Homo sapiens: one gene and its partner. The protein of the gene in region 1 interacts with the protein of each later gene in a pairwise test. Each region holds a gene or a part of one and is shown in the gene's direction. Other genes may lie near its edges.

The links. The genes of interacting proteins can lie anywhere in the genome.
Region 2: the proteins of CIZ1 (region 1) and UPF2 interact in a two-hybrid assay, tested with the Homo sapiens proteins (one large-scale study listed by BioGRID).

What each region holds. Positions count from the first base shown.
Region 1 is NC_000009.12:128,174,573-128,178,072, reverse strand, and holds part of CIZ1 (cip1-interacting zinc finger protein), read left to right. Parts: intron 1-309; coding exon 310-507; intron 508-1,597; coding exon 1,598-1,722; intron 1,723-3,500. UniProt on the Homo sapiens protein: May regulate the subcellular localization of CIP/WAF1.
Region 2 is NC_000010.11:12,029,310-12,032,809, reverse strand, and holds part of UPF2 (regulator of nonsense transcripts 2), read left to right. Parts: intron 1-3,285; coding exon 3,286-3,500. UniProt on the Homo sapiens protein: Involved in nonsense-mediated decay (NMD) of mRNAs containing premature stop codons by associating with the nuclear exon junction complex (EJC).

The sequences.
Region 1 (3,500 bases):
TGGAAGCCTCTCTGTGGGATTTGGGTCCCAGCTCTGCGTAACTGTGGGCAAACCCTTTCCCTCCTGAGTCTGTTTCCCCATCTGTCATACAAGGGGTGGGATGAGTGGTACTTTAGGCCGACCTGGGTTCGCATCCTGACTGCAGTGCTTTCTAGCTGTGCAAGCTGGGGTAGTCAGCTAACAGCTCAGAGCCTCAGTTTCCCTATCATCAGGAAGATCTGATGAGACAACGTTGGCAGATGTTGAATGCTGGGCTGGCCCACTATAAGTACACAGTTGATGGAAGTTCAGTTCCTACTCCCCATGCAGGTATGGGGCGCCGGGGGCTCCCTGAAGGTCACCATTCTGCAGAGCAGTGACAGCCGGGCCTTTAGCACTGTACCCCTGACACCTGTCCCCCGCCCCAGTGACTCCGTCTCCTCCACCCCTGCGGCTACCAGCACTCCCTCTAAGCAGGCCCTCCAGTTCTTCTGCTACATCTGCAAGGCCAGCTGCTCCAGCCAGCAGGTACTGATACAGGAGATAAGGGTGGGGAGGGGTGGGGCCTGCGTGGAATGCCCAGCCTGCCCTCCCAAGAATGCCTCAGGCTGCAATGGGCCCTGCCCCAAGCAGCCATGCATTTGCTTGGGAAACATTTCCTGACCTGCCAAGAAGGCAGGTTTTGGTGGTTTTGTTTTTTGTTTTGAGACAGGGTCTTACTCTGCCTCCCAGGTTGGAGTGCAGTGGCATGATCTCAGCTCACTGCAGCCTCTACCTCTTGGGCTCAAGCAGGTTTTTAGAGTCAGTCAGACCTGGTTCATATCGGCTCTGAGTAGCTGGGAGACCTTGGAAAGCGAATTCCACCCTGTGCCTGTTTCCTCTTGCATCAGACAAAGGAAAGTTTAGGGTCGGGCACAGTGGCTCACGCCTGTAATCCCAGCACTTTGGGAGGCTGAGGTGGGTGGATCACAAGGTCAGGAGTTTGAGACCAGCCTGAACAACATGGTGAAACCCCGTCTCTACTAAAAATATGTGTTGGCATGCTTCTGTAATCCCAGCTACTCAGGAGGCTGAGGCAGAAGAATTGCTTGAACCCAGGAGGCAGAGGTTGCAGTGAGCCAAGATCATGCCACTGTGCTCCAGCCTGGGTAACAGAGCGAGACTCTCAAAACGAAACAAAAAAAAGAAACGTTTAGAATCCACCTCACTGGGTGGTTCTGGGGATTCAGCAATGTGACATTGGAGTCCTGAGCGCAGGCCTGGCCCAAAGTGAGTGTAGCAGTAATCATGATCGCATTGTACTTGTATTACTACTCTTGTGCTGTGAGCTGTGTTACTCTGTGCCTCACCTGGCACAGCCTTGGAGACCTGGATGCTAATCAGGCCGCTCCTTGTCTTTGAGGCACTCACACATTCTCTGGGAGGGGCAGAAGCTCGGGCTGGCATGTACCCTGTGTCTTAGTTTATCATGCCTGCTCTAGCCTACACAAGAGAGAAATGTGTGGTGAGAGAAATGGGCGCACAGTGATGAGGCTGGGGTCTGCCTCCCCAGGCCCCAGCCTTGCCCACTGTTCTGGGCTCACGCCCCAGGCCCATCCCTCTTTCCCTCCTGCTGCAGGAGTTCCAGGACCACATGTCGGAGCCTCAGCACCAGCAGCGGCTAGGGGAGATCCAGCACATGAGCCAAGCCTGCCTCCTGTCCCTGCTGCCCGTGCCCCGGGACGTCCTGGAGACAGAGGATGAGTGAGTGGGGGATCGTGGAAGCTCTGTGTTGGGGGGTAGGCAGTCTCATCGGCCAGGGCCTGAATCTACCATCTGCAGGGTTTACCTTTGGGTTAAGCACTGCACCCCCAGCCAGGCCTCCTCACACTGTTAACTGTGTGACCTTGAACCTCAGTTTTCCCTGCCTGTAACATGGCTTGGTGACGGATATAGTACAGGAATTCATGACATTCTCTTAAGGTTCCCTCTAGGCAGGAACAGTATGACCATCCCTGTGGGAGAGGACAGGTTGTGGCACAGACTCTTGCCCCCTGTGGCATGTGTGCTAACCCCGCTGTGGGGTGACAAGGCTGAGGATCAGGTTCTTTTGTGGTTGGAGGTTAGGGTTTCCCTGTGTCTCCCCCTTTCATTGTCATGGGAGCCTGTTTAATCAGAAACTTCAGCCCTCCTGGGGTCTGGAACTATACTGGGGTGGGAAGGCCTGGCAGGCAGCCAGAGGTGCTTTCAGGACTCTGTGGGCAGTCATAGAGGTGTGCAAGGGCTGGGATGTGTCATCTCAGCAGCAGGACCATGTTAGCTAGGGCCACAGCGGGGACACAGGCTCTGTCTCAGGAGACAGCTGCTTCTCATCTCTGGATCTCTTAGTTTTAAGAAGAATCCAGAAATCCAGGTTTGTATGTGAAATCTCCCAATTTCAAAATGTTAACAGCTAGTTCAGAATTGAAACAAAACAAACCCTACGGAGAGCAAATCAAACACTTTCATAGGCTGGACGGTCCCTTGAGTCAGTGGTCACGGGCTCTGTCCTAATTTTACAGAGGTCACAATTTGAAGCTTCCAGGTGGGGCTGAGGGGACAGGAAGGGCTCTTGGTTGGCCTCCGCTTGCCTGCCTTGTGTGACAGGGGGCTCTCGCTCTGCAAGGGCAGGCTGTGTCTCTGTTAGCTGTTTCTCCCTTTGAGAAGAGCGTCCTTGAGTGGTTTTCTACTTGGTTGAAATAATCATAAACACAGGAGAATGATGACTCACCAAGACGTTCTTTGCTATTAGTATCATGATGAAAAAATCTAACGGGAAATGATCTAAAATACTCGAAAGTAGGGGACTGGTTAGATGATGAAAAAGCCCGTCCAGCTCGTGGAACAATGAATAAATAGAATAACTGGAGAATTTATAATAATGTGGAAAGGTGATGCAATGTCAAAGTAAAACAGGATTCAAAATTGCATCTGCAGAATGAGCTTGTTTGTGTAAGAATAGATCTTGTGACACAGAAGAAAACTAAAAGGACATACGTAGCACAAGCTGTTAACAAACTTGAGGTGTCGGGGATTCATCAAACCCTCTCCCAATGTTATCTCTCCATGAAGTCTTCTCTTGAATCCTACTTGGCCCTGAGGCCATCAAGAACATTATGGTCAGGCGCAGTGGCTCAGGCCTGTAATCCTAGCACTCTGGGAAGCTGAGATGGGCGGATCACCTGAGGTCAGGAGTTCAAGACCAGCCTGGCCAACATGGTGAAACCCCCTCTGTACTAAAAATACAAAATTAGCTGGGCATGGTGGTGCATGCCTGTGATCCCAGCTACTCGGGAGGCTGAGGCAGGAGAATTGCTTGAACCTGGGGGCGGAGGTTGCAGTGAGCCGAGATCGCGCCACTGCACTTCAGCCTGGGTGACAGAGAGATTCTGTCTCAAAAACAACAACAAAAATTTAAAAAGTCCCTCCAGTCCCTACCTACGACCCCCTCACCTTGGTCCCCAACACAAAGACATCAATACTGTCTTCCTGCATCAGTGGGG
Region 2 (3,500 bases), on another chromosome or scaffold:
AAGCTATAGTAGTGCCTAGTTTTGGAATATTCAGAACCATGATTCTTAAGAGAGTCTTTTTTTTTTTTTTTTGAGACAGGGTCTTGCTCTGTCACCCAGGCTGGAGTGCAGTGGCCTGGTCTTGGCTCACTGCGATCTCTGCCTTCTGGGCTCAAGTGATCCTCCCGCCTCTGCCTCTTGAGTAGCTGGGACTACAGATGCATACCACCATACTTGGCTAATTTTTGTATTTTTTGTAGAGACGGGGTTTTGCTGTGTTGCCCAGGCTGGTCTTGAACTCCTGAGCTCCTGGGAAAATTTCAGATATATGCAAAAATAGAATAGTATAGTGAACTAGTCCCCCATCTACCTAGCATCAATAATTACCCACTTTTTCCCCCTGGAGTATTGTAGAGCATCATAGCATTTACCCATAAAAACTTCGATATATAAGTGTTTTCAATGCAGCTGAAAATTGAGTTATTTAATGTATGTACATACTTTCTTTTCTTTTCTTTCTTTTTTTTTTTTTTGAGACAGAGTTGTTTCACTCTTGTTGCCCAGGCTGGAATGCAATGGCGCGATCTCGGCTCACCGTAACCTCCACCTCCCAGGTTCAAGCCATTCTCCTGCCTCAGCCTCCCGAGTAGCTGGGATTACAGGCATGTGCCACCATGCCCGGCTAATTTTTGTATTTTTAGTAGAGACAGTGTTTCTCCATGTTGGTCAGGCTGATCTCGAACTCCTGACCTCAGGTGATCCACCCGTTTTGGCCTCCCAAAGTGCTGGGATTACAGGCGTGAGCCACGGCACCCAGCCTTGTACATACTTTCTTAAAATGTACTTTCACTGCTCATTTTGTATTTGTGTGTTGCTGGGAGACTTCAAAGAGATACTCAACTGTCCATGTTCTCAGTGATAGAGGCCACCTTTCTGTTAATATATTGTAGCTTTTAATGGAAAAATCAAATAATTATCTTATAACTCAGGGGTGATTATCTCAGAAAGATGAAAATGTACTTTTTTAGAGATTTATAGATATGCGTATAACTTTTTGAGACAGGGCTCACTCTGTCACCCAGGCTGGAGAGCTATGGTGTGATCATGACTCACTGCAGCTTCAACCTCCTGGGCTCAAGCGATCCCCCCGTCTCAGCCTCCCAAGTAACTGGGACTACAGGCATGTGCCACCATGTCCAGCTAATTTTTAAAATTTTTTTGTAGAGATTGGGTCTTACTATGTTGCCCAGTCTGGTCTTAACTCCTGGGCTCTTCCCACCTCAGCTTCACAAAGTGGAGATTTAAGTTATGTGTTTTGTTATCTCAAAAACTTCAATAAACTTCAAAATCAGATTGTTGCCCCTCACTCGTGCCTATTTTATTACTTCTGCAATTTAAACTTGTTCTGTCTTTTTAGTGGAAAAATAGGTATATTTGTTTTTGGTTATTCTTTTCAGTATAAACTGAGTCTACTAGGTTTTTATTAAGTTTCTTATTTGATAGTTGTCTTCTGGTTCCTTTCCAAATTTTCTAAATCACTTGAATTTTTAAGAGCCCAAACATAGCAAGGTACTTTGTTAAAGGTTTGGCTAATGTGCTGAGGATGGAAAAACAATATCTAACATTGCAAAACTGTTTTGTTTTTTTTTTTTTTTTTGAGATGGAGTCTTGCTCTTTCGCCCAGGCCGGACTGCAGTGGCACTATATCGGCTCACTGCAAGCTCCGCCTCCCGGGTTCATGCCATTCTCCTGCCTCAGCCTCCTGAGTAGCTGGGATTACAGGTGCCTGCCACTGCGCCCGGCTAATTTTTTGTATTTTTAGTAGAGACGGGGTTTCACTGTGTTAGCCAAGATGGTCTCGATCTCCTAACCTCGTGATCCACCCGCCTCGGCCTCCCAAAGTGCTGGGATTACAGGCATGAGCCACCGTGCCTGGCCTTTTTTTTTGAGACAGAGTCTTGCTCTGTCACACAGGTTGGAGTGCAGTGGCATGATCTTGGCTCACGGCAACCTGCGCCTCCCGGGTTCAAGCAATTCTGCTGCCTCAGCCTCCTGAGTAGCTGGGACTACAGGCGCGTGCAACCATGCCCTGCTAATTTTTTGTTATTTTTAGTAGAGATGGCGTTTCACCATGTTAGTCAGGATGGTGTCGATCTCCTGACCTCGTGATCTGCCTGCCTCGGCCTCCCAAAGTGCTGGGATTACAGGCGTGAGCCACTGCCCAGGCCTCAAAACATTTTTAATGCATTCTTTTATAGTGCTAATTATTATTATTATTATTATTATTTTTTGAGGCAGAGTCTCGCTCTGTTGCCCAGGTTGGAGTGCAGTTGGGAGATCTTGGCTTACTGCAGCATCAGTCTCCGACTCCCAGGTTTAAGCAATTCTCCTGCCTCAGCCTCCCAAGTAGCTGAGATTACAGGTGCCCACCACCACGACTGGCTGATTTTTGTATTTTTAGTAGAGACGGGGTTTCACCATGTTGGCCAAGCTGGTCTCGAACCCCTGACCTTAGGTGATCCACCCGCCTCCCAAAGTGCTGGGAGCCACCACATCTGGTCTTGTAGTGCTAATTCTTTAAATAATTCTTTGTGTATAATTGTTTTTTTTTCTCTTTGCCCATTGCTTTTATTTGTTTCACATTTTACATCCTTCCCAAACATACTATATTTTTCACAGTAGCATTATATGTCTTACCTAGTTAGCTTGCCAGTTGGCAGAATGATTTTTAATTTTAATCTAGTGTCAGTATCCTCTGCTCTATGACATTTGTTATCGACCTCCAGTACTGGGCTTCTCATTAAGATAATACTTGTTATCGTTAGTCGTTAGTAAAATGTCTTTATGTGTTTTTTTTTTGTTTTTTTTTTTTTGAGACGGAGTCTTGCTCTGTCGCCCAGACTAGAGTGCAGTGTCACGTTCTTGGCTCATTGCAACCTCTGCCTCTTGGGTTTAAGTGTTGTGCCTCAGCCTCCTGAATAGCTGGGACTACAGGTGAGCGCCATCACGCCCAGCTAATTTTTGTATTTTTAGTAGAGGTGGGGTTTCACCATATTGGCCACGCTGGCCTTGAACTCCTGACCTCAGGTGATCTGTCTGCTTTGGCCTCCCAAAGTGCTGGGATTACAGGCATGAGCCACCATGCCTGGCCAGTAAAATGTCTTTAAAAGTAGTGAAAGGCCTTTTGAATCTTGTAGATTGTTATACTTAGATAATTTTTTTCATTGGCTTTTTACTCTTAGGGGATTTGTGTATAATGCTTCAAAATGTAGAGAGTATTTTATTTATTTGTTTGTTTTTATATAGAGAAAAAGAAGAATCCATTCAGCTTCATCAGGAAGCTTGGGAACGACATCATTTAAGAAAGGAACTTCGTAGCAAAAACCAAAATGCTCCGGACAGCCGACCAGAGGAAAACTTCTTCAGCCGCCTCGACTCAAGTTTGAAGAAAAATACTGCTTTTGTCAAGAAACTAAAAACTATTACAGAACAACAGAGAGACTCCTTGTCCCATGATTTTA